Regions from separate parts of the Homo sapiens genome. Here regions 1, 2, 3, 5, 6 and 7 are each linked to region 4. The links come from fine-mapping of genetic effects on gene expression. A gene starts in region 4. Each other region holds a variant in brackets. All regions are shown on one strand. Distances are from middle to middle.

Region 1 (4,067 bases), 190 kb before region 4:
CCTCACCACCAAACCCTAGGGACCCATGGGTTTGTTGTAAGAATATGACAAAGGCAGCTCAGCCAAGAAAGTGGGAGGAAAATTTTCAAAGGGCCACCATCTAGCCCCTGCCTTCTTAAACGCACCGGGAAACTTGATTCATGTTTTTGGAGCTAGTGTCACTATCAGGATGATGCCCAGAGCTGACAAATGCAGGTCACAGGATTAGGGTGTCAGTCAGAGCCAGCAACCCTTTTTTTTTTTTTTTTGAGACAGAGTCTCCCTCTGTCACTCAGGCTGGAGTGCAGTGGCACGATCTTGGCTCACTGAAACCTCCACCTCCCAGGTTCAAGCGATTCTACTGCCTCAGCCTCCCTAGTAGCTGAGATAACAGATGTGTGCTACCACACCTGGCTAATTTTTTGTATTTTTAGTAGAGACGGGGTTTTGCCATGTTGGCCAGGCTGGTCTCCAACTCCTGACCTCAAGTAATCCACCTGCCTCAGCCTCCCAAAATGCTAAGATTACAGTGTGAACCACCGCGCCCGGCCCCGCAGCCTTCTCATTAATAAGAAGAGCACTACCATATACTCATTAATAATGAGTATTATTAATGCGCTTTGGTTAAGAGGGTTGCCTCATTTAAGAAGGTGCTTGTTTAAGAAGATTACATATGGGGTGGAGGCAGCCACTTATAAAGATGAGCAGAAAACCACAGCCACAATGTAAACTAAGCCATTGTTATCTTAGGAAAATGCACCCCTAGAGAAGGCTTCGGAATTTGAGAAAATAATTCAGGGGGAGAAAAGCAAAGTATCTATGACGCTAATAAACAAACAAATAACAGAAACCAAATCTTAAGACATCTGTAGTTCCAGCATGGTAAAACAAAGACAATGGTTGCTTTCTCTGGAAAAAAAAAAGATTATTTTTTCCAGGTAAAGTGGGATTCATCATAGTGAAATGGTTTACTGACTCTTTCATCCTTTATGCCCCCCAATTTATGTTTTGCCCTAGACCTATCTATTTCCTATGAGTCTCCTATGCAGCATTCCCAAATTTGCACCCAGTTTTCAGAAGCGCCTGGCCCTGCAAAGGAGCAAGGGAAAGGTCCTACCCAAACAATCAACGGTATTCCCCGATTCTAGGATGCCATTAATTGTGAGATGTAACATTAGTTTAACAGCACCTTTTTCTGGGGAGGGGGGAACCCAGAAAGAAAGCCTGGCAAAGTAGCTCTACACATCATGGGAAGAAGCACTGCGGGTTTAGAAAAGATATAGCTTGGAAGTATCTTTAGAGATTTGTAGCATCTGGGGGCAAGCCTGCACACAGGTTTCTAGCATGTGACACTCCAGGAAGGAGTCAGTAACTCTCCGTGATCCCAGATGAAGACATAAGAATCGGCTCCTTGAGAATACTCCGAGGGCCTCCCTAAAGAAAATTGATGCAGAATGCTGCAGCTTACATGGGATTGGGTTCTAGTGTCAGGGTGGGAGGCGAAAATCCTGTAGGACAAAAACTCCTCTTGAAAGAGTACAGTACACGTAGTATGTGGGACAGTGGGCCCTTCCCATGGCCAGTTTCTCCTCCAGAGTTGGGAAACATCTTTGTTTCTTTGCTCAGACACCAGACGAAAGGGTGAGCTAGTGTCTAGGCCCACGTTCTTAGGAAAAACATGCAGTTTTGTTGTTCTTGTTGCCCACTGCATGTGGCTGAATTTGGATGAGGGCGATGTGACTCCAATGTGAAATAGATGCATTTTTGTTTTTGACTCCAAGACCTCTTGGCGCTTTAATGTGCTAATAGCTGCTATGAGGCTCTGGGAGGGGGAGTCTGGCACAGTTTCCCAAGGGTATGCATCTACCCAAACCCTTGTTCTTCGTATGGGCTCACTGTTCCAGAGAAAGCACTGTTTGGGAGATGCTTCTCTGCTTATGGCTCAGGATAGGGAGAATTCCGAGATGACCTTTTGAATCAGCGCTGCTAACATTCTTTACTCAGATTTAAATA[C/A]AGGAATGTTTGTTACCCGAATTCTCCTCGGTGGATACAGCTCTGAGGAATGGAATGGAGCAGCCTGTATGGCAAGGACACACCAGTGATGAGTCAGAAGCCAGGGGTCACGTTACAGCGAGAGCCCTCCAGCAATCAGCTGTGGTCAGGGATCAAAGCCATGGCCTCCCCACTGCTCACAGAGGGATGCCTTTCCAACTGCGTCTCAACAGAGTTGGTCATTCTCTTTCAAGCAGCCATGTCTTCCAAATGATTGTACTTGCTTACATGTGGAATTTGGCTTATTCATAATTGGTGAGCCAATTTCCCTTCCTTGCTGGCTTCCTTCCTTCTTTCTTCCAAGATTCTTTTTTTTTTAAGAAAAACAAACAAACAAACAACCCCCCCCCCAAAACAAACAAACAAACAAAAAACAGTATATTGGGCATCAACTTTTGAGATCCAGCACTCCTTGTGTGGACTCAGGGAATTGAATGGTGAGCCTGACAGGGGTCCTTGTTCCTTGAGAGTGTGAGAGGGGGGAGGGGTGGATAAGTACATAAGAATTTGCACCAGCCACCATATATGCTAATATTGGTGAAGCAGAAGGTGCCAACAGCACTTGAATTTGGGATTGGAGGAGTGCTTCCTTCTGCCTGTTTATCCACCTGTTTATCCCAGACACTTTTTTTTTTGAGACATAATCCTGCTCTGTCACCTAGGCTGGAATGCAGTGGCACAATCTTGGCTCACTGTAATCTCTGCCTGCCAGGTTCAAGCGATTCTCGTGCCTCAGCCTCCTGAGTAGCTGGGATTATAGGCACGTGCCACCATGCCTGGATAACTTTTGTATTTTTAGTAGAGCTGGGGTTTTACCATGTTGGCCAGGCTGGTCTGGAACTCTTGACCTCAGGTGATCTACCCACCTTGGCCTATCCCAGACACTTCTGAGTGTCTACTAGAAGCCAGGAAAAGTGCTCCCTGGTGGGACTCAGCGATGCCCAAGGAACAGTCCTAGCCTTCAGGAACTCACTGTCTAGTGTTCACAGTGACTCTTCTGCACAGTAATCAGTGCTATAGGTCACAGAGATGCAGAGGGCAAAGGAGCCAGCTGACGATTGAGTTGGGTGGCAGCTAAGCCCAGCATACATGCCAATAAAACACTGAGGGTACTGCCAGCCTAAAAATGGTGCCTGTTGGTGAAGCAAAAATGAAGTCATCTGTCCTTGGAAAAAAATCTCAAGACACAAATAAAATCACCTATTGTCAATTGGCTATTGTCAAGGCCAACAACCCTCAGGTTGCTAACTTAGCGACCTCTTCTCTTTAGTGTCTTACTCAACCTCTTGGCATTTGACATGATCTATGAAACGCTTTCTTCTCTTGGCTTCCGTGTAGTCATTCTCTGCTGCTTTTTCTGCCAAGTCACTGGCCATTCTCCTTCAACCTAACTCTAAATAAATGTTGACTCTTCCCTTTCCAATCTAATCCAATCCATTCTGTCAGCAAATTCTGTCAGCTACATTTCCAAAATAGATCTCGAGTTTATCCTTTTCTCTCCATCTCCACGGCTACCACGATGATCTGTTACCGCTAGCTATGCATTAGCTCCTTCCGGGTCTCCTGGGCTCCACTGCAGCCAGAGTGAGCTTCAGAAAACAGAAACCAGATTATGCCTTTCCCTCACTCAATACCCCCCAGTGTCTTAGCACCACACGTAGAGTAAAACCCAACCTTCAGACTCTGTTCTACATGACTCTGACATTCTGGTCCTTGTCTACTACTCTGAAGCCCTCAAATGTGCCTTGTTTGTTTTTACTCTTCTGTGTTCTCTGCTGGGACACTCTTGTGACAGCTTTTCACATGGCTTGATCATGTATTTGTTTATGTTATTTAACCTACCAGAACATAAGCCTCAAGAAGCCAGGCCCTTATTTGTCTTGTTCACTAATGCATCTGCAGCATTAGAACAGTGCCTGGCATATAGCAGGTGCTCAATAAATATTTTTCAAATAAACAAATGAATTGAAACCATGTGACTCTGGAGAATGTAATCCAAGACATTCAGCCTTCAAGAAATAGGCTTTGATGAGATA
Region 2 (4,067 bases), 41 kb before region 4:
TGATGAATAGTAGTGAAAGGCTGTACCTTGGGAGGCTCAGGATTATACTGATGCACCCATCACTCACAGTTACTAGACATGTGGCAGAGACTGAATAAAGGGTTGACCCAGGGACACTCCTTGAATATGTCCCCTTTTTTTGATCAGCATATCCTTCTAACCTCCTAGAAGTTCCAATTTACAAAATGTAATGGTGGGAATGAACAAAGAAGTAAGGCACAATTACTCTATCTGGGTGTTAGGGGTACTTGGCCTCTGTGGTTGACACAGCAAGGCTGAGTTGTGGTAAATTCTTGCACATTCTTGCCCATTGATCCTGCCGCCTTGAGCAGGGCCAGGTAGCCAGTCCTGTGGTCTAGAACATAACCCCCGTGGTTTTGGACGCTCAGGGTGCTGTGTGTGTTGATGTTGAATGAGTAGGCTTGGTTCTTAGTTGAGCTTTCAGAACTCTGGAAATGCTTGAGTTTGCAGTGACTCGTGCACAGTAGAATGGAATGCCTAGTATTCCATGGTGTATATGTGCCACATTTTCTTAATCCAGTCTATCATTGTTGGACATTTGGGTTGGTTCCAAGTCTTTGCTATTGTGAATAGTGCCGCAATAAACATACATGTGCACGTGTCTTTATAGCAGCATGATTTATAATCCTTTGGGTATATAGCCATAAAAAATGATGAGTTCATGTCCTTTATAGGGACATGGATGAAGCTGGAAACCATCATTCTCAGCAAACTATCGCAAGGACAAAAAACCAAACACTGCATGTTCTCACTCATAGGTGGGAATTGAGCAATGAGAACACATGGACACAGGAAGGGGAACATCACACCCCGGGGCCTGTTGTGGGTTGAGGGGAGGGAGGAGGGATAGCATTAGGAGATATACCTAATGTTAAATGACGAGTTAATGGGTGCAGCACACCAACATGGCACATGTATATATATGTAACAAACCTGCACGTTGTGCACATGTACCGTAAAACTTAAAATATAGTAAAAAGAAAAAAAAAAAGAATGGAATGCCTGATTCTGCATCCCTCTAGATGGGATCAACAGGATCAAAACATGACCTTGATGGCCAAGCCAAGTTCTCTTTTTCCCAAAGGGTTTAAATCTGCCCTATTTAATATGGTAGCCGTAGCCATATGTATTTATATTAAATTCAAATTAATCAAAATTTAAAAATTAGTTACTTAGTCACACTAGCTACATTTTACATGCTCAGTAGCCACATAAAGCCAGTGGCTGCTGTATTGAACAGTGCTGATTATGGAATATTTCCATCACTGCAAAAGGTTCTGTTGGACAGCAGTAATCCAGATCTCCTTTGTAGAAGAATTGGCACCTGGGGCTGCCTGATCTTCAAGGGGCACATCACAGAGCATGGTGTTGACCCATCTGGATACCATGTTTGAAGTTGACATGGCCCAGAAATTTGACTTCCACCAGTTAAAAATGTACTTCGACAGTTTTGTATTTAACCTGTAAATCCAGAAGCATGTCAGGGCCTTCTGGATGGAGCACTGTGAAATTAGCATACACTTCAAACCCTCTTCCCTAAAAGATCATGCACTACTGTGCTGTACATGGTAGACCTATCTCATAGTGTAGGCTTCAGCAAATACTCTTTGACAAATAATTGGTTCTGTGCTGATGATAAGCCTAATAGGTGAAAGATGGTCTTTCCCTTAAAAAATTGAGATATATGATACCAGTCTCATAAACTCTAATTCACAAGCCCTGGCATTATGAGAGGCACTTAAAGTATGAATGGTGTTAAGATTATCCTTTAATTTTGCAGTAGGCAAATGACCTCCCAAAGATATTCACTTCCTAATCCCCGGAATTTGGGAATACATTACCTTACATGACAAAGGGGATTTGCAGATGTGAATAAGTGAAGGATTTTGAGATGGGGAGACTATCCTGGATAATCCCAGTGGGACTCATGTAATCACACAAGTTCTTAAAAGTGGAGAACTTTTCCCTGCTGTGGTCACAGAGAAAAACGCAACCAATGTAAGAACGGTCAGAGAGATTCAACATTGTTGGCTTTGAAGATAGAGGAAGAGACCACAAGCCGAAGAATGCAGGCAGGCTCTAGAAGCTGGGAAAGAGAAGGAAACGTATTCTCTGCAGAGCTACCAAAATGCATACATCCCTGTCTACACCTTGATTTTAACCTGGTGAGACCTGTATTGGGCTTCTGACCTATAGAACTCTAAGATAATAACTATATGTTGTTGAACATGCTAAGTTTGTGGGAATTGTAACA[G/A]TAGCAATGGGAAATGAATACACCTTTTATACAGTGGAGGATGACTAAATAATTTATTTTGAAAATACAACTGTCACAAGGATGAAATATTCATGATCACAAATTGGTGCATTCTTAACTGTGGATAATTATGTATGAAGCCAAATTGTAATAAAACTGTTATTTGCCAAACATAGAAACCTTGCTTCGTGACTAGGCTGAGCCCAGAGTGTTATTCTCTTCTTCTGCCTGTTATGTATCTGGGCAATTGTAGGGCCTTTGCAGGTGAATCCAGTAGAGAACATGCTAAGAATGAGCAGCAGTCATGCATGACTGTATCATTGAAAGCCTTCTAGCCATTTTACAGCTTCACCTCCGTGGTTTTATTTTTTCAGAGGGGACTGAAGGAGATGAATGGATAATAAACTATGGCTAAAAACTTGGTCTGGATGAACTCTTTGATGCGGGGCATCAGGGGGGTGGGGGTGATGGGTGCGTACCATGGGATCAGTAGCCCTGCACCAGCTCAGAGGTATAATTGTGAGGCTGGTGGAAATGCTCATCGGGGAGAAGGAAATCAGGATCACAGCTTCTGAGGACTGAACATGCTCTCAAATATAGAATCATTAATGGCCTTGGCATTCATGGTGTTAGCCTTGACTCAAATGAGAATGCCTCGACCCTTCCCAGGTTCTCCGAGGCCCCTAAGTAGACTGTCACTGGGACTTGGGGACATGGAGCTCAGTTAATGGCCTCTTATTTTTACTATGCCATAGCATCCACCTGATTTCTGGAAGGCATTGCTTCACTTTCATAGACAGAAGATGTAACGACTGCCACGAAGATCCCTGGAGCTCTGCCTGGCGATTCTCACTCCCACTGGGTAGCTGACAAATTTTCCCTGAGAAGACATGGTTTCCTCCAGCAGCAGCAGAAGGAGTCATGGGTTTTTCTGTTTCATGGCTCAAACTGTTGTGACTCGGAATTATACTAGGACAGGGCCCTGACTTATTCTTCTGGGCTGGGCTGAGTAAGGCCTGGCTGAGTGTAGCTGGGTACACAGGTAGGGGTGGAATCAAAGCTGGAGGTACCCATAATGCTGGTTAGGAGGATAACTAGCTAGAATAAGGTTGGCAAGAACTGGGTGAGCAGGGATAGGAATTAAGACTGAGGACTGGGCTGAGGGTAGGTCAGGGGTTCTGGCAGCAACACAGCTGGAATGAATGGAGAAGCACACAAACAAAACCAAGCTAAGAAGAGCCTAGATCAAGCTTGTCCAACCCATGGCCCACAGGCTCCATGTGGCCCAGGATGGCTTTGAATGTGGCCCAGCACAAATTTGTAAACTTTCTTAAAACATTATGAGATTTTTTGGTGATTTTTTTAGCTCATAACTATTGTTATCATCTCCAGAAGGTGTTCAATTTACCTTGTCTAGATCCATTAGAGGAATCACTGTCTATGACAGCTGTAGCTTTATGAAATGTATTATATTTCTTAAATAGTAAAACTTGAAAGTTGAAATTATATATTGATCCATGGGCTGCAGAATGAATGTTGTGTTAGCAAGTATGAAAACATCATTAATCTCCTTACACATCTCCATCAGAGCTCTTACGTAACCAGTGCATTGTCAATGAACAGTAATATTTTGAAAGGAATCTTTTTTTCTGAGTAGGTCTCAACAGTGGACTTAAAATATTCAGTAAAACCATGCTGTAAAAAGGTGTGCTGTCATCTAGGCTTTGTTATTCCATTTATAGAGCACAAAGCAGATTTAGCCTAATTCTGAAGATCCCTAGGATTTTTTAAA
Region 3 (4,067 bases), 59 kb before region 4:
CCATTTTTTTGGTGAGACTGATATAAATGTTCTTCCAAACTGGCCAAGCTGCAAGGTTTCCAAAAGCAAAGCTTAAGGCTGGACGCAGTGGCTCCCACCTGTAATCCCAGCACTTTGAGAGGCTGAAGTGGGAGGGGTTTGAGACCAGCCTGGGCAATGTAGCGAGACCCCATCTCTACAAAAAAAATGCAAAAAACAAAACAAAACAAAAACCCAAAACAAGCAGGCACAGTGGCTCACACCTGTAATGGCAGCACTTTGGGAGTCTGAGGCAGGTGGATCACTTGAAGTCAGGAGTTTAAGACCAGCCTGACCAACATGGTGAAACCTGTCTCTACTAAAAATACAAAAATTAGCCAGGCATGGTGGTGTGCACCTGTAATCCCGGCTACTTGGGAGGCTGAGGCACGAGAGTCACTTGAACCTGGGTGGTGGAGGTTGCAGTGAGCTGAGATCATGCCACTGCACTCCAGCCTGGGCAATAGAGCAAGACTCTGTCTAAAAAAAACCCAAAAAACAAACCAAAACCAAAACAAAAACAGAGCTTAAAAAGCAAGACTTGCAGAACATTAGGACTAGGAGGTAGCTGTGGCCAGGGCTCTGTGTAATGCAAAGATTATGTCTATAGGACCTCTGCAGGCCTGGGTTTTACTCCTAGCTGTGTCCTTACTAGTTATATCATCTTGGGCAACTTATGTAAACCCCTGAGCCTCAGTTTCTTCCTTTGTAAAATGGGAATAACAATTTCTGCCATTCAGTACTGTTGCCTAGATGAGTGATAATTTGTGTCAAATACCTGGCACATACTAGGGACTCAATAAATTTTAAGTACAGTAATGTCACTTAACAATGGAGATATGTTCTGAGAAATGTGTCATTAGGTGATTCCATCATTGAGCAAACATCATAGAGTGTACCTACACGAACCTAGATGCCTACTACCCACCTAGGATACAAATCTGTACAGCATATTACTGTACTGAATACTGTAGCAACTGTAACACAGTGTTAAATATTGATGTATCTAAACATGTAAACATAGAAATGTTACAGTAAAAATATGGTATTATAATCTTATGGGACCACTGTTGTCTTTGTGGCCTATCACTGATTGAAATGTTATGTGGCGCATAATTATAATTTTAAAAAATCACTCAGACCTAATGTATGCATTTAATGACTCCACTCTAAGGAAAGCCCAGATGCACTTAAATATACTTCTGTTTATACTGCTTTCATTGGAAATGAAATGCCATGTCAACTATGATGCTTTCAGTTGTAAGTAGCAAAACTGCCAACTCAAACTAGCTTAAAAAATAAAGTGAATTTATTGGTTCATGTAACTGGAAAGTCTCATGAAAATGTCAGCTTCAGGAGAAGCTTGACCCAGCAGCTTCATGATGTATGGAAATACCTGGGTTTTTTGTTTCTGCTCTGCTACTGTGGTATCAGCTTTATTCCAAGTCTGGCTTCCTTTGTTGTTGCAAAATGCTTGTCAGAAGAAGCCTGGGTCCATCTGTTAGGATTAAGTTTACTCTGTATGCTGTAGTAGTGGCTATGACAAGATAGAAGTGTATTTCTCCTCCATATAAAAGAAATCCAGAGATAGGCAGTCCAGGGATGGTATGTGGCTCCACTATGTCATGGACCCAGACATTTAACTTGATGCTCCACGTCCTAAGGTATGGCTCCTTTTCTCAAGTTCACCTCAAGGTCCAAAATGACTGCTAGAGTTCCAGCCATTACATCTGCATTCTAGGCAGGAGGAAGGGGCAGAAGAAAGGCTTGCCTCTTCTCTTTTAAGGAGACTCATTGGAAGTGCCACACAATCCTTTGCTTACAGCTTATTGGCTGGCACATAGGGTAGTTGCCAGGGAGACTAGGAAATAAAGTCTTTTGTTCCCCCTCCCATCCTCAGTTCCTTTTGCACTGTGCTAAACAATTCTAGGACTTTTAACAGAACTCTTCATAAAAGTCTTGAATTTTATTGTATTTATTTATTTTTGAGATGGAGTCTTACTCTGTTACCCAGGCTAGGGTGCAATGGTGCTATCTTAGCCCATTGCAACCTCCACCTCCCACATTCAAGTGACTGTCCTGCCTCAGCCTCCTGAGTAGCTGGGACTCCAGGCGCGCACCACCACACCTGGCTAATTTTTCTTTTTTTTTTCGTAGAGACAGGTTTCACCATGTTGGCCATGGCTGGTCTCAAACTCCTGACCTCAGGTGATCTGCCTGTCTCGGCCTCCCAAAGTGCTGGAATTACCAGTGTGAGCTACCATGCCTGGCCAAAAATCTTGGGTTTTAGATCCCTTCTTTATTTTTTTGGATCTTTTCTGAATCTTCTCCAGTCTTTCCTGATTCACAAGGGGCACAGTCATAAGCCAGGAAATCCCTAAACCTTTATATACTTTAGTTTCCCCATCTATAAAAAGATAAAAGATAATTGTAGCTACCCTTTTTCCTCCAGAGATTAAATAAGATGCATGCATGCTTGATGCAGTGAACATTTAATGAA[T/G]GTTAAGTAATAAATGTAATACTTTGTGATTCACGGGTCCTGTCTCCTATTTGTGTTTTTATCTATCATGCTTGTTTCTTTACCTGAAACCTCCAAATCTCTTCTTGCTCAACCGCAGCTTCTGCTTCTGTAATTTGTTTTTCTCCCTTTAGAAATGCTTCTTAATAAACGCCTTTGAGTCTATTTCTGACTTCATCTCGAATTTGCCAAGGTAGTTTTTTCAGTGTCTGAAAATATGACAATAAGAGAAAATGATTCAGGAGGGCAAAGAGCAGAAAAGCAGCTATAAAGAGTGGGCAGAGGGGAAGGGGAGCGTTGGCCTCTCCCTGGGAGCTCCAGGCTCCATGTGCACACACAGGCTCATCCCCGCTTCTGTCAAGCTCTTGTTCCCAGGCTGAGTTACTTAGAAAAGGAAGAAGAATGTTTCCTATTTGTTCATGTGAATTCACTTAAGAAACACATCCTCAGTGATTAGGCGTTAGAGCTAATTTGTCTACATGCAGCTTAAAGTTAAGCTTGGGAATTTATTTTATTTGAAATTCAAAGGATGAAGCCCTCTTTGTCTTAAGGGCTGAGAAACGCAGCTCAGCTGCGTCTAAGATGGTTTGTACTCACTCTCTTCCTCCCTTCTTGCTTCGGCAAGGATGGAAGGGCTGGGAGGATTTGCATTCAGTTTCTCATGCAAAGAGCTCCTCACGGAATTCCTGCCCTTTGCATATGCTGGACAAGACCAAGATTTTCCAGGTCGCTGCTTGCAGTTGTATTCATAACTGTGGGGGGAGATAATAGCTAACATCAATTGACGGTCACTAGAAGCATTTTGCATGTATAATAACAGTAACAGCCAACACATAAAACGGTGCCTACTATGTGCCAGGCATAGTTTAAATTATTTTGTATACCTCAACCAATTTTATTCTTTCATATTCCTCTGAAGTAGTAATTACCATTACCTACATTTTACAGAAAGGTTAAATGTGGGCTCAGAAAGGTTAAATCACTTGCTGAGGGTTATATTCAGCTAGTGTCAGAGCCTGGATTCAAACTGATCATATGGCTCTGTGCTCTTTTTCTTTCTTTTTTTTTTTTTTTGTTTTGAGACAGAGTCTCGCTCTGTGCTCTTAACTGGTACATTCTACCATCTTCCTAGGAGGGGGTTTTAGTATTAATATTCTTATAAAAAGGAGACTGAGGCAGGGAGAGAGGAAGGAATCCTGGATTCCAGCGTACGCAGGAGACTCCAGAGCCCGGGTCTTCTTTGCTACCTCCTCCAGGGACATGCGGAGACATCTCCACATCCAGCACTTCACATAGGAAGTACCCTGAGGACCACGTGGGATGACATAACCCATCTGGAGTAACTAGTGGCATGGTGCAGGGTGCAGAGCTGTGCTTGAGGTGCTCCCTAAACCCTATCAGTCCTGATACTGCTTCTGGGGCCTGGAGGGGAGTAAGGGAGGCCAGTGTTTGGGGGACAGAAGGCGGCAGCCCTGTGATAAACAAAATCATGTTTCTGGCACCAGGAGCAGAATTCATGTGTGCTTTTACT
Region 4 (4,067 bases):
TGTGGTGGTGCACGCCTGTGGTCCCAGCTGCTCCAGAGGCTGAGGTGGGCGGATTGCTTGAGTCCAGGAGATTGAGGCTGTAATGAGCTATGATCGCGCTGCTACACTCTAGCCTGGGAGACAGAGTGACAGTGAGATCCTGTCTCCAAAAAAAAAAAAAAAAAAAAAAAAAGTATTTTTAAAACACATAGTATGGGCCAGTTTCTTTCACTTCTTTCTCTTGTGTATCGCTTGCGATGATACTGTGTAGCAGGTATTATTTTCCCTGATTTACAGAAGTGAGTGGAACTGAGATTCTGAAAGGTTAGGTAAATTGCCAAAGGTGACACAGCAACACTCCCTTTTGTTTTGTTGTTGTTGTTACTATCTATGTGCTTCGAACAGAGACCTATCGACTAGCTTTCCTAATCTTACTACCTTTCCTTCATGCTTTACACAAGAAAAGTCAACTTTTCTTAAGGGAAAGGTTCTTGTTATTTTGAGCAGGAAAGTAAATGACCAAAATTGTACTTTGGGGAAATTAACCTAAGTTTCTGTAGGATGTGCTGCGGGCCAGAGCCCAGGCCAGAGGCAAGGACCTTAAGCCAGGGCAGTAGCAACAAGCATGGGAAGGGGCCCGGCAGCAGGCCCTGGAGGCTGGAAAGGGCTTGTCAAATGTTTGGATGTGGTGGAAGGGAAGGGCAGCCTTGCCACCCTAGGTTTGGGACGCAGGGGACACAGGGGACACTGGCAGGTGGCGCAGCCTGGGTCAAACCCCTCACTCTCTGAGCCCTTCTTGCTTGGCACCCTTGCAAATAAATGCCTTCCTTTCTATTGCTGCAAAAACCTCGGTGTGGATATCCGGTTTTACTGCACAGGGTGAGTGGACCCAGTTTGGTTCCATAACACTGTCTCCCTCTATCCCTCGTTGGTGACCTCCGTGTAGCAGGTGCTAAAAGCTGGTTCACCTGTGGGGCATGTGTAGTTTTCAGAGCGCCTGTGGGGTCTCGTCCAGACTGGGAGGCTCTGACTCAACTCCCCACCTTCTTCACTGCATTCCTGCCCCCAGCCTTGGGCTGCTGGCCTCTCCTCCCCTAGCTGGCAGAGGAATGGGAGAGGTGGTCCAAGCCCAGCTGCCTTCCACTGTGCCCACTACTTCTCTTACTGCACCATGTCAAGGGGACAGGCCACTGCTCGGCCGTTCTCTCTCTGCTCTGCTGTTGCTCCTTCTCAGTGGAGACTAGACCCCAGCCCGCGTTTGTTCACATGCCACATCTTGTGCCCTGGCACAGGGCTGTGTGGAACAGAAAGGCATCGTGAAGGGCAAGACCTGCATCACTCCCCAGTGGGCAGAAGCCTCACCACTCCAGTAACCTTCCTTCACAGCCTTCTTCGAGGGCTGGAGGGGCGGTGGTGGGGGGTGGAGTCAGAGGGCAGTCTTCCACCTCAAGTCAGCCTCGAGGAGGGGTCTGCTCCCAGCTCTCAGATCTTGTCTTTAGAACGAGTGCCAGTTAATTCCCAAGTCTGAATCCTACTCATTGATTCAGGACAGCAGAAAAACTCCCACTTCCCACCCCTGTTTCTGGAAATGACCACAAGCCTGGCTACAGGGCGACCGAGACCATCATGGGTGGACTACGCACGTCCAGCTCTTAGTGTGGTCTCCGTGTCTCGGTTTTCTCTTTTGACTTCTCTTTTGGAGCTCTTGGTTGAGACACTTGGTGAGTGTGGACTTTTAAGGTAAACTCTGAGCTGACCAGGACTGGCTGGTTGGTCTCTTGGGTGCTATGCAGTCACAGAAGCAGGTAATCAAAGAACAAACAGTCCTGTGGTGTTTGGAGTCTCCCTTGGCTACCGCCAAAGCCTCTGTTTGATTTCTTGCATGGCAACAAAACCAGGAGGGGAAGCTGAGTGGCTTCTGGAATAAACTTTGGGTGTGAGACGGGATTCAGGCTGTGGCTAATGTGCTGGAAGCACGCACAGTTGTGACCATCAAGTATGCAGGAAGCAATCATTCTCCTGGCTCTCCTGGGTGCCATGTCAGGTAGGAACTCAATTTTGCTTTGGAACCTTGCTTGCCTACTTGGTCTGCATAATACCATTGAATGACAATGTCCCCCAGAAAGGAAATTGCCCCTGGGAGGCTTGTTCAATTGAGGGCTTAGCTGCAGTAATGAATGAGGTGATGCCGCTCCAGGGAGCCCTGGGGGACCAGGTAGGAGCCCTGGAAAAGAGAGATGCTTAAAGAGCCTAATCTAATCTATGTTGGTGTAGACTTCACTTTCCCTCTTGGGTTAACTGGCCTGCATTTGGTAGTCCTCCTGAGATTTAAGGTTGGGAAAATAGTGTTCATAGCAGAGCTTTGTGAGTATGTCAAGTGAGTCTTTGTGGAGATTCTGGCCCTTTTCTGGAGGCTCGTAGGGCAACTTGAGGTTGACAAGTGATCCTTTGAGGAAAGTGAGTTACTGAGGGGGTGTCTTCCTCTTGAGCAAAGAAAACACCTTCTGATAGAAGGGTCAAAGACTCAAGCTAGTGATCATTTTACTCTCTCTTCCTCATTCAAGGGCATCAAGAATCTTAGATGATCTTTTTAATGTCAGCTTGGATTATTGAAATTGAGATTTTAAAATTAAATTTTATTTCTGAATAGGTAGTATATGCATAATATATTGAATTTATGTTAAATTTGCAAATTAATTTAGGGATAATTTACATCTTTGACAAGTTATGTAGTAAAATACTTAGAAGAGTGTCTGAGTACATAGTAAATGCTTAGTAAATGTTAGTGAGTATTATTTATGATCTTGAGTCTTCCTAATCCAAGAACAGGGTTCTAGATACTTGTTTGAGTCTTCATTTGTTTTTCTTAGGAGTATTTTGAGGTTTCCTTCATATAGATTTGGTACATTCTTATTATGGTTATTTCTAGTTCTTTTACTTTTTCTTTTTTTACATTTGTAAATGGAATCTCTTCTTCCCTACATCTTTCAACTGATTATTGTATGATGTATGGAAATCTGTTAACAAATTATCTTATTATTTGGCATGGTTTTTCAGGTGATTCTCATGAATTTTCCACGTTTGAAAAAATGAACATTTATATTCTTCTTCTCCTATGTCTATAGCTCCTATTTTTTTCTTATCTAACTGCCAGGCCTGGACATTCTGACCATTATTAAATAATGACAAGAGTGTAAATTCCTGTCTTGTTTCCCATTAAGCATGATGTTAACTTTTGGTGTGAGAGAGAAATGTTTTATATGTTAAGGAGGTGGCTTTTATTCTTATTAATATAAGAATATTACAGTATTTATTTCTAAATAAAAATATAATAAAACTAAATGTAAGAATATTCAAGTACTTATTTCTAAATAAAAATGGATTTTTAAATCAAACGCTTTTTCAAGATCTATGAAAATGACCATTTAATTTTCCTCTTCGATCTGCTAATAAGATAAATAAATAACTGGGTTTCCTAATATTGAGCCCTCTTCTATCTTGGGCTTTTCAACTCAGCAGAGGGCAGGATGACCTGTGAATGTGAAGTGGGCCATGAGCAGTTCAGACTGTCACTTGAAGTAAACATTTCAGATTTCCCCCAGAAATATGGGCTTTTAGGGCCACAATCATTTGAGTCGAGGTGACTTTTATTGTCACTGGGGAAAGAGTGAGGTTAGGAAGAACCCAATTTCTTATACTGAACACTATCATTTGGAATTTTATCAGAAGTGTGAAAGGGATAGATCACAAAGGTTTGCAAGAAATACTTGAGATTTCTTATTTAAAACACACAATAGAATCCCTTAGGTCAAATCTTGTTTTTGGAAGGGCTACTGTGACACAAACTGTTTCTTTTGTGAGTCTGAGAACCTGGTCATTACCCTCACACTCCAACACCTGGGCTACAGAGGCTTCTAGCGGGGCAGCCACATCAGCACCCCTTCAGGCTGTTGGAAGCAGGCATCACTATAATAATCTCAAATAAAGTAACATACAGTAAAAAATTAGCAGAGCATGAAGACGGGTGCCTATAATCCTAGCTACTCAGGAGGCTGAGGCAGGAGAATCGCTTGAACCCAGGAGGCGGA
Region 5 (4,067 bases), 86 kb before region 4:
CTGCCTTCAACAGTCTCACCCCCCTTTACCCCCCCCCCAGTTGTATTTATACTTTGAAAGAAGTTAACATGAAGCAGTAGTCACCTGGGCGTGCTCAATTTTTGACAAGCCTTAGTCACTCTGTACCCAGCAGAACAATTCACATTATATTCGAAATCCTGTGAAGATTCTGCCACACATGCTAACACTAAAATGCCAGTAGCTCCACTTACCTTCTTTATTAAGCCTCATAACCTCCCTGCTTTTTCCACCCTCTTTTCCAGCCTCTTCTAAATCTACATCTGCAGATGAAAAAGAAAAGGAAAACAGAAAATAAGGAAAAAAGGGGGGAAAAAAGCCAAAGTCAAGGGGGGAGGGAGAGTGTTTATTTGCAAACAGATCGATATAAATACTGTATATGAAATTCTTTCAAAAATTGACAATGCAACATTTTCTCCCAAGTCTGGGTTTCCATCTACCTGGCCCAGATAGGTACCCAAAAAACTATGCAAGCAGCAACAAAGTAGCCTTTTAAACGGACAACACCGTGGGGCTGCGAGCCCACCCCGCGGGCTGCCACGGGGAGCCGGGCACAGACAGACAGACAGCCCTGGCAGCCGGGCCTCTCCCTGTGCATTGATGATCTGTCTCTGTGTGTATTTATTTAGAGAGAGAGGGAGAAGCATGGAGGACACCGGGGGCCACTCTCTCTCTCACACACACACTTTTTCCCAGTGGCTCTAGGTGAATGGAAAGGTTACAGGATAATAAAAGGAGGAGGAGGTGGTGGGGTTCTTACTGTCGGAGCAGTGTAATTTGGCGGCGTCGATCCAGGAGGACCAGGGTTTGCCCAGAAACGCCTCCGGACTGGGCACTTTGCGATCCAGTGTCGCCATTGCTCTTCCTTCTTGTTGCTTTTTCCCTGTTCCTTCGGCAGCAGCAGCCGAGAGACACGGGATTCGAGAACGCTCCGACGTCATCTTCGGAACGTTCCGACATTGAGTGTTCTGAAAGGGGGAGGGAGGGAGGAAGGGCGGGATGGGAGGAGGGCGGCGGAGGAGGAGGGGAGAGGGAGCGGAGGAGGGGCGGGCGCTCGGGCTCCCGGAGCCGGCTCGGTGGGGCTCGCGCGCCCGCGGCCGCCAGGGGCAGCAGAGAGGCACCTGCAGTCCGCGCCCGCCCGCCCGCCGGGGCCGCCCGCCTGCCGGGGAGGGGCAGCGCGGACGGGCGAGCGCCGCGTGCGGGAGAGCGAAGGCTGCAGCGCGCCCGGCAGCCGGGATGCAGCGGCGCCGCCCAAGCCTGGGGCGCAGGGGTCGGGGCACACGGGGATAGGCCCGACGCGGGGCCGAAGGAAGGGTGGTCTTTCCCGCAGAGTTGCCGCTGGAGGACCGAAAGTTTTGCAGGCAGCCCTTGCTTCCAGCTTGTCGCTCTCTCCCCGCGTCCCTGTCGCCCAACGCGAGGCGCCCCCGCTGGGGTCCCGACGGCTTGGTGGGGAGGAGCCGTGAGGGGTTGCGCCCCCCACCCCCACCCGAGCCAGGGAAGGGACCCTGGTGACCTCGCCTCCCAGCCCTCACCCCCGTCACCCCTTTCTTCTCTTTCCTGGAGGACTTTGGACCATGGAGATTCTGCAGTTGTTGCTCTAGGAGCTGAAACCAGTGGGTAGATGTCGTTCTGAAACGCAGGTGAGTTTGGAGCGCTACGAGCTACCTTCCCATCTCAGGCTGCGGGGCGTGCAAAACTCAAAAGTTAGGGCCCCCGGACCCCCGGGTTCCCCGCGCGGTGCGTATCTCCGGCTCTCAGAGAACCACTGCATGGACTTTGCTCCAGGGTCAGCAGAGCGGGAGGGCGAATTTACGGCTCTTGGAAGACGA[C/T]GCTAACGGGCCTAGCCCCTGAGCCGTTTCCAGCGCTCCCTGCCGTGAGACGAGGGTGGCCCGGGTTTGCGCAGGCAACCTTTGGCCAGGAATCTGATTCCTGGGAGAATTCACTTCAGGCTTAACTGCTCTAGCCAGCTAGAAAGGGAGCGCTAGATTTCCTCTGGATTTTGGACGTTGGGTGCTTTAGTTGAGATTTTCACCCTTTAAAGAAGGCTTTAAAAAGTCTTCTGTTACTTCTTTTTAACAAATCCTTTTGTTTACTAGAATTATCTAAACTATATGGACACCGCCCTCACCCCACAAGCGACATATTTTTTTTTCTCTTTCGCCAGCACCCTTTTAGCTCTCACCACTGCTGTTTCCCAAGTTGTCACAGCTGAAGCGCACTGATTGGAAGTTGCTTTGTACTGACTGAGTTCTGCCCTGGCTGAACCATCTAATAATTTCCCTGAGCTTGGCACCCTGTATCGCTAAGCCAGTGTTAGGATGGGCGATGAAGGAGGAGCTGCGGATTTGCCTTTAGTTGTGATGTTTGTGTGAGTCGGCTTGTTTGTGTCAGACTCAGATAAACTGCATTTGCCTTTGCTCTCTTTCGAAGGGCTCCTACATAGCTAAGGTGTCGCTGGGTGAAGAATTCCCATTGTAAGAATTGGTGGTGTTAACAAATATGTATTACTTGTTGACCTCTTGTTATATGCTAGACCCTGGGCTTGACATTTCCTTCCTTCCTTCCTTCCTTCCATCTGTCCATCTTAAGTCAACCAATATTGCCTGTCATGGAACAGCTGTGCCCTCCTGTCAGGAGGGAAAGATGAGTGAGACCCATCCTCACCCTCACAGAGATGCAGTCTGGTGGTCTCTGGAAGAAGGAAGTTGTGAAACTTACCGATTCCTTGGGAAAACAGGCAGGTACACAGGGACTGGCCTGTGCAGTGGGTGGGGTGGTCTCTCAGCTGTGCCAGTTCATAGAGGAACCGAAATCTAGTTAGGAGTGAACAGAAACTGCGTAACAGAAGATGGGCTCTGCTCTGCATCTTGGAAATTGCCAAAGATTTGTAATGGTAAGGTGAAGACTGGTCTTGCGGAGGGAGGGGGAATAATGGTATTAGCAGAGGCTTCAAGCTGAGTATAAACATGGTGTGTTTGGGTGTTGAGCATGGTTTGCCTGGGATGGAGAATTGTTACTGGGGGCTTGGGGGTGATGCATTTTGATACCCAGGCCTGGATCAAATTATGGAAGGCACCAAACGGCAGCCTAAAGAGTCTGGATTTTGTTTGACAATGGGGAGCTACTGAAGGGCTTTCTGTACCATAAAGATAAGTTAAAAGTGTGAGTTAGAAAGATTGGAGTACGGAGCCTGGTTAGAAAAGTAGTGCTGCAATATTCATGGTGTGAAGAGATGAAAGCCTGAACTTTGGTGGTGCTATGCAGGTAGAGAAGAGGAGACAGGTGTGAGACTGTGAAGAGAGCACCTGATCAGAGGGTGTGCTGTTGGGCTAGATTTAGAGGTGGGGAGAGAGAATGCGAGAGCTCTGAGGCATGAGTAATTAGATGCTGGAACACTTTCCCTTTCCCTTCTGCTTCCCTATTTTCCCTCTATTTATTATCTATTTTGATGTTTATTCCTGTGTTGTTGTGCATGCAAGGAAGGTGTAGGCAGCAGCTAATGTGGCCCCAAAGGTCTGTACCTCCTGGTGTTCATGCCCTTGTGTAATCCTCTTTTCTTTAGTGTGGGCTAGACTTAGTCACTTGCTGATAACAAAGAGAATATAGCAAAAGTGGTGGGATGTCATTTCTGAGGTTAGGGTACAAAACTGCTGTCACTTCTGTTGCTCTCACTCTCTCTTGCATGCCCTGTCTTGCTCTAAGGGAAGCCCACTTCCATGTTGTAAGCTGCCTTATGGAGAGGACTGTGTGGCAGGTAACTGAGGGAGGCCTCTGGTCATCAGCCAGTGGGGAACTGAGGCCCTCAATACAACAGCCAGTGAGGAGCTTAATCCTGCTAGTAGCCATGTGAGTGGGCCACTTGCTGGGAGTCAGTGACTTGAGCTTCCAGAATGCTGTCTCCTCTTCTGGGAGCTACTGTAAACCACTCAAAAAAATCAAAGGTGGCTTATCATCAGAAGTCAGGACACCTCAGTTATAGTGAAGCAAATCAGTGGTTCCATATTTTAACATGAGCTTACTTTCCCAGCAGAGTCTGTCAAGTGGAGGTT
Region 6 (4,067 bases), 98 kb before region 4:
CACACCCTTCATGAAATTACTAACAATCCCAATGCCATGAGGGAAACTGAACAGCGGCCTAGAAGATGTTCAAAAGGAGGAAAAAGAGAGAAATCATCACTCTAGATAGACGCCCCTGGAGTTGCTTGGCAACCATCTTTGCTAACACCTTCTCCCAAAAAGGAACACAGTTTGCATTAGCTCCTGTGATTTCCCTGAGGCCAGGACTCTGGCCACAGAGGCCCCAAAGCTGGGGCCTTGGAATGAGAGAGCGTTTCCCTGATGGGGAGACCCAGGGCCCTATCAGGAGGCCACTGGCTTACACAGTCAAGGGGGAATGAAAGGTAGTTCAGCCTTGCCATTTTGCTTAAAGAACAAGCTCTCTTGGCCAAGGATGGTGAGAGGATGAGTGAAGTCAGGTGCCCAGGTGCAACACTTAAGGGGCACTCACTCCGCACTTGCAGAAGCCCACGTGAGCCCCTCCTTAAACAGGTGTCCTGGGTGCCTGCTTGCTTCCCCTTAGTCCTAACCCTGCTCCTAGGATGACAGACATCAGGACACAGTGCTTAGAGCACAGTCTCTGGAATCAGCCTGCCTTGGGGTTCAGGGCAGCTCTACTATTCCCCAGCTATGTTACCTTGGGTAAATCACTTGACCTCTCTGAGCCTCAGCTTCCCAATCTCTGAAATAGGGTTGATAACAGGATTTGCCTCACAGGGTGGTCATGAGGATTAAATGCGAACATGCACATTTAGCCCTGTGCCTGGCACCTAGTTAATGCCCAATAAAAGACAGCTAGGATTGTTACTTAAAAACAAAACAAAACAAACAAAAAAACACATAAGTTGGGCTGTGTTTAGCCCAAAAGGTACCAGAAAAATAAATTTAAAACACAAACAAAAAACTCCAAAAGGAAATACATAAGCAGCTCCCTAGAACCCCTGAACCTGGATCTATAGAATCAGAATCTCTGTGGGTGGTCCTGGCATATTTGCTTTTAAAAAGCTTCCCAAGGAATTTTCAAGGTAGGCAGGGTTGAGAACCACTTCTCTCAACCAATAAACAGTAGTTCTCAAAGTTCAGGAAACAACAGAGCCACCTGAGGAGCCTGTTTAAAATGCACGTTCCTGGTCAGGTGTGGTGGCTCACACCTGTAATCCCAGAACTTTGAGAGGCCGAGGTGGGAGGATCACCTGGGCTCAGGAGTTTGAGACCAGCCTGGGGAATATAGCAAGACCTTGTCTCTACTAAAAGTCAAAAAAAATTAGGCAGGCATGGCAGCACACGCCTGTAGTCCTAGCTACCTAGGAGTCTGAGGTAGAAGGATCGCTTGAGCCCTGGAGATCGACGCTGCAGTGAGCTTGATCATGCCACTGCACTCCAGCCTGGGTGGCAGAGAGAGGCCCTGTCTCAAAAAAAAAAAAAAAAAAAAAAAAAAGGACATTCCTGGTTCCTGTGCTTCACTCCCGGTTGTTTCGTTTTAGTATGACCAGCCTGGGGCCGGGGGCACGAAGTACCCTACAGGACAACACAGCAGGGTCTCCAGAATGAACACACTTTGCAAAACATTGAAACAGATTCATTCGTTTTTTTTTTTTCTTTTTTTTGAGACGGAGTGTCACTCTGTCCCCCAGGCTGGAGTGCAGTGGTGCAATCTCGGCTCACTGCAACCTCCGCCTCCCGAATTCAAGCAATTCTTCTGCCTCAGCCTCCCAAGCAGCTAGGACTACAAGCACATGCCACCATACCTGGCTAATTTTTGTATTTTTTTTAGTAGAGATGGGGTTTCACCACATTGGCCAGGCTGGTCTCGAACT[C/G]CTGACCTCATGATCCACCCGCCTGGGCCTCCCAAAGTGCTGGGATTACAGGCATGAGCCACAGTGCCCAGCCCCAGATTCACTCTTGAAACTAACAGTACAGGGACACCAGTCCAATCCCTTTGTCTTTATTCGGGGCATCCTTAAAGAACTGGAGACATACAAGTTGACAAAAGATGCCTGGTGAGCCCCGGGCATCCCCCGGAGCAGTAAGAACGCAGTCTGTCCCCTGGAAGTGGCAGCTCTTAAGACAAAGGCGAAGACCCAAGTGCCCGGTAAAAACAACGATCATCACAACAAAGGCTTCCATTACTGAGTACCTACTTTATACCAGATAGCATCTCATTTATTTCCACAACAATTCTGATAGGTACTATTATTCCTACTCTGGAAAAGAAAAGTAGAAATTGAGGCTTAATTTAATACACAGCCAATAAATGGTCAAGATTTAAATAATGCTCCATTAAACTCCCAAGCCTGCAATGCCAATGAACCTTTTTGTGTGTGGTAAAATACACATAACATAAAATTTACCATTTTAACTTTTTTTTTTTTTTTGAGACAGAGTCTCGCTGTGTTGCCCAGGCTGGGGTGCAGTGGCGCGATCTCAGCTCACTGCAACCTCCGCCTCCCGGGTTCAAGTGATTCTCCTGCCTCAGCCTCCTGAGCAGCTGGGACTACAGGCACGTGCCACCATACCCAGCTAATTTTTTGTATTTTGAGTAGAGATGGGGTTTCACCGTGTTAGCCAGGATGGTATCGATCTCCTGACCTCGTGATCTGCCCACCTTGGCCTCCCAAAGTGCTGGGATTACAGGCGTGAGCCACTGCACCCGGGCCATTTTCACCATTTTTTATGTGTACGGTTAGTTCTGTGACATTAAGTATATTCACAATGTTGTACAACCATCACCACAGTCCATCTCCAGAACTTTTGCATCTTCCCCAACTGAAACTCTGTATCATGGCAACACTAACTCTCCGTTTCCCCTCCCCCAGCCCCTGAATACCCACCATTCTACTCGCTGTCTGTATGAATCTGACTACTCTAGGAACTTCATTATACATGGAATCACAGAGTATTTGTCCTTTTGTGACTCATATACTTTTTGAGAACTGGACTATCACCTTGGTCTGATATAACCAAACTGGGACCATGTCTCCAGCATCTTCCATACCCCTGGAATGCTGAACTCACCTGTGGTTAATATCATCGGACTGGGTGTCCTGTGTCCCCACCCCACCCCAGGACTCTGTGGCCTGTCAATGCCTTGAGGTAAGGTCACGTAACTCACACTCCCCCTACAGTTAAGGGTATCCTTACACCATTAATGTTCACAGATTTACAATTAGCATCACAGAATCAGGTACACCGGTAAGTGCTTCTGTGTTCAAAGAGCCTGTCATCGACTCACTTTTATCTTCCCCATTATGGTGACCTGGTGCCACTTCGTCCTGCCCTGGAGAGTATTTATTTGGTTTCCATTTCTTCTGTAAGCACTTGATCCCTTAAAATTGGCAAGCAGAATTGTGTTGAGAAACCACAGGTACAAGGATAAAGTGTCTCCATAAAAACATTGCTTTCCCCACAGCAGAATTCCAGCTTCACTTATAGACGACTAGGGCAGCCAGGTCTAGCCCCTGAATATTAAGGATGCTCCGCTGTAGCCTCAGCCCACTTGCAAGAAGGGATTTCCTGAGGTTTCATCATTAGTTCAAGCGCCTCAGGGTCCAAATCCAGGTCCATTTGGCAGTCTGAGCTCTACCACAGGAGAGAGTAAGAGAATGCCAGCCAAACGGCATCAGCTGGGAGCACGTAATCAGCAGAACACTGGACCGGGAGATTTAGGAGACAGTCACACACAGAAGTCAGTCCTTGCCATTCCTACAATATTCTGAAAAAGTAGAACCCACTGGCTAAAGCTCTCCCTCTCCATTACGGCTATGTTTGATTATTGCAATCACTCAGTGACCACTGTCTCCAGATGTGAATAGTGGGCCACCTCAGTGTGTGGGGTCCTTAGAGAAGAGGGATTTGACCAGGACAAGGTCTCACTGCATTGAGTACTACCATCTTATGCCTACTTCTGAAATATGTCATGAATGAAACAAAATGTCATAAACGAAACGTTAACCTGAAGGATATAAATGCAACCAACCCGGAAAACCATACAGAAACAAATCTGCCTAACTTTTCTAAATCAATTCTGCAGCAGAGACGGCAGGCCCCTGGGAACCGCCGGCTGAAAGCATCAACATGGCCTCACAGTC
Region 7 (4,067 bases), 33 kb after region 4:
ACCTGTCTCTTCCTATCAGATCAAGGAGATCTGGGCAGGGTGTCATCAAGAGAGCTGGGCTGGAAGCCTATGATGACAAAGACTCTCAACTACCCAAAGATGTAGGAAGGACTTTCCTTATGCCACGTGCCAGGGATTAGATTTCAAAACAGCTCTTCTGAATCCCTAAACTGGCTTCCAACCTGGACTGTAAGCCCTGTTATGTTTCATTCTCAGCTCACCCTTGTCCCTTGTTCCTTCAGGCATTTCAATAACTGATGCTCATGCATTTTGCGCCCTGCTATATTGTAAGTTGTTTTTAAGGGTAGTGACCAGATCCTACTCACTTTGGTATAGTCCTATTACCTAGTGGGTAGTAGCTGTATTAAATAGGTAATAGGTATAGTCCTATTACCTAGTGGGTAGTAGCTGTATTAAATAGGTATAGTAGCTGTATTAAATAGGTAATAGGTATAGTCCTATTACCTAGTGGGTAGTAGCTGTATTAAATACACTGTATTTAAATACAGTGTTGGTTAAAGCCAAGGCATAGAATCAAAGCCAGAAGTTGTCCAGGAGTGAGAACACAGTGATAGGGATAAGAAGATTGGACTCAGAAGCAGAGCCTGCCTTGACAGGGGCCTTTTATATGCTTTCTGTAGTTAGAACAAGATCCACTCACCAGCTTTTCAGGGTGTGGTCAACCAGGGCTCAGACCAACAGAGCCAGAAGTTTCTGTATTCAAGAGCGATTAAATTGGATAACTGCTCTTTGAACCGCATCCTGATGCATCGAGAACGTTCCATGGGCTAAGAACATAAAATAGGAAATGAGCACACACATCTTCTGGGGAAGGGTGGGCAGGTGGGCTGATTTCATCAATTTTTTTCCCTTGTTTTTTAGTATTTCCTGATTTCTCCCCCAAAGAGCTTCAGAATGTCTGCTAATGGCACCCTCTTCTCCACAACAGAATTGGACTTTGAAGCAGGACACAGAAGGTAGTCTTGCTATTGACCTTGCATGAAGTACTGTTTATCTGAGGGTCAAGGAAAACATGAGGGATAGGTCACAGTGCAACCTGAGGGCAGCTGGGGGGAGCCCCTTGAGCAGTCTACAGCGTCATTGTAAGTTCAGATGGTAGTGAACCCCAGAGAGGGATGGGGAATAAGGCAATTGTCTGGGAGGCCTCTTTTGGTCTCCAGAGAACAAGAATGACAGTATGGGAGAGGGTGCCCAAGTACAAGAGTGTCATGAGCAGTGCAAGGTCAGACATAACCAGGTCCATGCACATTTGTGTCTTTCCATAAGGTCAGGTTTTCACTGATGCTACTTCAATCCTAAAAGCCATGAGCTACATGGAATTCCCAAGGAGGCAACTCTCCTTAGACCTCTTGCTAACTCAGTAGTCAGAGCACATAGGCTCAAGCCACTCCACAGGTCAGTCAGTATTGTAAACCATACATAGTATACTTCATCAGCACATAAATGTTATAAATTAAACATTCCACATCAAACAAAGTAACATTTAACATCATGAGAAAAGAGGTTAATAAACCAGACCAAGGACGGTGATGTGGACACGGAGAGTGTCTTGGCCACATCCAGATGGTCATCAATGTCTTGCAAGGAAGAGTCTTTGATTTGGGCAGATGCTGGGTGCTGATTACAAGTGACAGCAAGACAGGGTCTGTCAAGATGGCCTTGTCGAGCCGGTGAAGTCCTGCTCGTTTTATGGCCCTTGAGTCCACTGGCGAAGACTGGTAGTAAAGGATTATGCCCTTATCTGGTTGAGTGTTGTCTTTATTGATTAGGTGACCATCTGGACCCTGTTGGCTTGATGCCTTTTGAAATGGAAGATGGCATTTTTTTTCTAAGATGTAGTCATTAATGTCAAGGGTGATCTATACAAGATTTCTCAGACCCCATCTTGTTTGGGAAAGGCAGCCATCCAAGCAAAGGGGCTGATGAGGGGAAGTGGATGACAACACATTGGCCTTGGGGTGAAGCAGGTGAGGCTCCTGGCTCTGCGTCGGGTGTGGGAACAAGAGCTAGCCATGTGAGCCATGGGGGCCTCACTCCCTCCAGTGGGAGTGATATGCACTTTCCAGAGATCTTGTGAAAAACACCGGGATAGATGTGCAGCATGGCGCTTGAGCAGATGCTG[G/A]CCTGGTGGGACAATGGTGGTGAATAGCCCCTGCAGAATGAGAAGCAGCCAGCGGGTTTGGAGACGGGGGGAGAAAGGTCACCCTGCAGGCCCTGAGACTGTGGGGGCATTACGGAGAGGCTCACCACCAAAGGGGCAGGGTCTGCTCTCACTCCTCCCACCCCATGATTTTCCCCATCCTATTTTGAAGTAGTGCCAGCAAAGCTTGATTCTCTCACGTGGAATGTTTCCCTGGCAGTTTCCATCTCATCGTGGAGGTGAGGGACAGTGGAGGCCTCAAAGCCTCCACAGAGCTCCAGGTGAACATCGTGAACCTCAACGACGAAGTCCCTCGCTTTACCAGGTAGGCCTGAGGGCATGCAGGACTCCCTGGGCCGCAGGTGCGTCCTTCTTAGGCGGCCTCGTCTCCTCCGGCACATTTAATACAAGGCAGAGGGATGCCCTTTGCTGTGGCCTGCAGGAAAGATTAGAGGCACGTGCTCTTCAGAGTCTTTATCTGGGCCTCTGGACTGCTGTTTTCCACCTTTGCTGCCTCTGCCTCCTGTACCCACACATTCACATGCACCATGGGATTTTGGATATGGTGGGGAGAAGGGGTGGACACATGCCCCGGGGTGTGGCCTGCACTGTGCACATGCAGAGGGTGCTTTTAAAATAAAGTGCCGCGCTTTAGTAACAGCAGAGTCCCAGAGCATGCATCATCACTCACGACTCCCTAACGCCCGCTCCTAGTATGTTATCCTCACACCGAGGAGAGGGCTATTTTCACGGTGCCTGCCTGTTACTGGCTGCTCTAAAGTTTCTTCCTGCCATGGTGGATCCAGAAAAGTGATCCGGCTGTGTCTGGCAGCTCCTCTGTCCAGCAGAGGTGGGAAGGGTAAATGCATCGGGTGGAGGGTAGTTTGTGGAAATGTGCCTGGCACTATCCCAGGCACAAAATGAAGATCTGAGCCTATTGTAGATGGGGATTTAGGAGGAAAAGATGGGATTCTGAGCTAGTAGATGGCACTGCAAACAGCCTGGCATACTGCTTACAGAGCCTCTGCCTGCCCCAGTCCCTGAGATGGGCATAGAAGCCAGCCACAAGGAAAGGCAAAATCACCTTTAACAGCATGAACGGTTATGAATAGATTCAGCACAGGATACTCCACCAATAAAAGACCATTAGGCCTCAGAGCTGGGTAGAGGACTTGCAAAACTACTCCAAGATTGCGAGGTATTTAAGGCAACCTCACTCCCAGACTAACCTGGTGCCACTTGGCAAACACCACAATTGCACAACTTCTGGATGTTAACATAGTCTACAGTCCAGTTGCAGGTGTCAAAGAATGCGTCTGCTCCAGCCCTGCAGCCTGGGCTGCAGTTCCTTTTTCAATCCTTGACCCTCAATTTATCTGCTGCTATTAAATGGCTATGTAATGCTTTCCATCAGCACCTGATGCTGGGTTAGGTTCAGAAGGAGAGCTCAGTGCCTTTGGGCTGACAGGTGGCTCCTGGAGCAAAGTCTAGGCAGCTTATTAACAGTTATGACATCCCAGCCCGGACTCAGGCTCAGGTATGGGCCCACACAGCTCTGCAGATTCTTCAAGAACCCCCAGAGGAAGGTGATGGCTGCAGGGCTGGAGCAGATGCATTCTTTGACACCTTCCCCACAAGTCCCATCTGGGAGGAGGGGAGGAAGGTTAATGGGGTTTCAAAGGGGAAAATAATAAGTCCTCCCCAGGGGCAGAGCTTGTAAACCATCTGGTTTGGATCACATCTTCCAAAATACAGAAACTGACTTTTAGCAGAGAGAGAGAGAGAACATGACCCTCGCTGGCGTGGGATGCACCCAGAGGTCAGCCTGGAACTCTCTGGTTCTCATTTTAGGTTTGAAAGAGGAACATATTGGGCTCCATCCCCAAGCAGATAGCATGATCTGTGT

Direction of the effects. Positions count from the first base shown, and alleles are read on the strand shown. Sizes are in standard deviations (SD) of each study's normalised expression. Not every link is listed here.
With allele A in place of C in region 1, the expression in tibial nerve of the gene that starts at base 1,923 in region 4 is higher (moderate effect, 0.48 SD a copy in GTEx).
As copies of G replace T in region 3, the expression in anterior cingulate cortex of the gene that starts at base 1,923 in region 4 goes up (moderate effect, 0.48 SD a copy in GTEx).
In carriers of allele T in region 5, the expression in tibial artery of the gene that starts at base 1,923 in region 4 tends to be lower than with C alone (large effect, 0.82 SD a copy in GTEx).

What was found.
Region 1: its variant is fine-mapped to the expression of CDHR3 in tibial nerve (GTEx, PIP above 0.99).
Region 2: its variant is fine-mapped to the expression of CDHR3 in whole blood (INTERVAL, PIP 0.99).
Region 3: its variant is fine-mapped to the expression of CDHR3 in anterior cingulate cortex (GTEx, PIP above 0.99). The same link has a PIP of 0.9 or more in hypothalamus and prefrontal cortex.
Region 5: its variant is fine-mapped to the expression of CDHR3 in tibial artery (GTEx, PIP above 0.99). The same link has a PIP of 0.9 or more in adrenal gland, aorta, atrial appendage, liver, pancreas and skeletal muscle.
Region 6: its variant is fine-mapped to the expression of CDHR3 in tibial nerve (GTEx, PIP above 0.99). The same link has a PIP of 0.9 or more in fibroblasts.
Region 7: its variant is fine-mapped to the expression of CDHR3 in nasal epithelium (TOPMed, PIP above 0.99).

Annotation. Positions count from the first base shown.
Region 1 is chr7:105,774,122-105,778,188 of GRCh38, forward strand. All of the region lies in intron 3 of ATXN7L1 (ataxin 7 like 1), which reads right to left. Among named protein-coding and RNA genes, the nearest start is that of ATXN7L1, 100 kb to the right of the region's middle. RefSeq lists enhancers at 1,534-2,117, 1,707-2,906, 2,118-2,701, 2,702-3,285. The variant C/A (reference allele first, on the strand shown) is at 1,993.
Region 2 is chr7:105,920,593-105,924,659 of GRCh38, forward strand. No RefSeq gene overlaps it. Among named protein-coding and RNA genes, the nearest start is that of CDHR3, 41 kb to the right of the region's middle. The variant G/A (reference allele first, on the strand shown) is at 2,276.
Region 3 is chr7:105,902,541-105,906,607 of GRCh38, forward strand. No RefSeq gene overlaps it. Among named protein-coding and RNA genes, the nearest start is that of ATXN7L1, 28 kb to the left of the region's middle. The variant T/G (reference allele first, on the strand shown) is at 2,519.
Region 4 is chr7:105,961,342-105,965,408 of GRCh38, forward strand. It overlaps CDHR3 (cadherin related family member 3), which reads left to right and starts at 1,923. Exons shown (of 19, transcript NM_152750.5): 1 at 1,923-2,023. The coding sequence starts at 1,978. RefSeq lists enhancers at 476-1,427, 1,428-2,379 and a silencer at 1,962-2,256.
Region 5 is chr7:105,875,600-105,879,666 of GRCh38, forward strand. It overlaps ATXN7L1 (ataxin 7 like 1), which reads right to left and starts at 1,000. Exons shown (of 12, transcript NM_020725.2): 1 at 779-1,000; 2 at 213-281. The coding sequence starts at 959. RefSeq lists a silencer at 1,043-1,252. The variant C/T (reference allele first, on the strand shown) is at 1,848.
Region 6 is chr7:105,863,066-105,867,132 of GRCh38, forward strand. The region is part of intron 2 of ATXN7L1 (ataxin 7 like 1); the gene reads right to left. Among named protein-coding and RNA genes, the nearest start is that of ATXN7L1, 12 kb to the right of the region's middle. The variant C/G (reference allele first, on the strand shown) is at 1,797.
Region 7 is chr7:105,993,869-105,997,935 of GRCh38, forward strand. It overlaps CDHR3 (cadherin related family member 3), which reads left to right. Exons shown (of 19, transcript NM_152750.5): 5 at 883-977; 6 at 2,382-2,486. LOC107986833 (a long non-coding RNA gene) reads left to right here and starts at 2,498. Exons shown (of 2, transcript XR_001745316.2): 1 at 2,498-4,067. The variant G/A (reference allele first, on the strand shown) is at 2,144.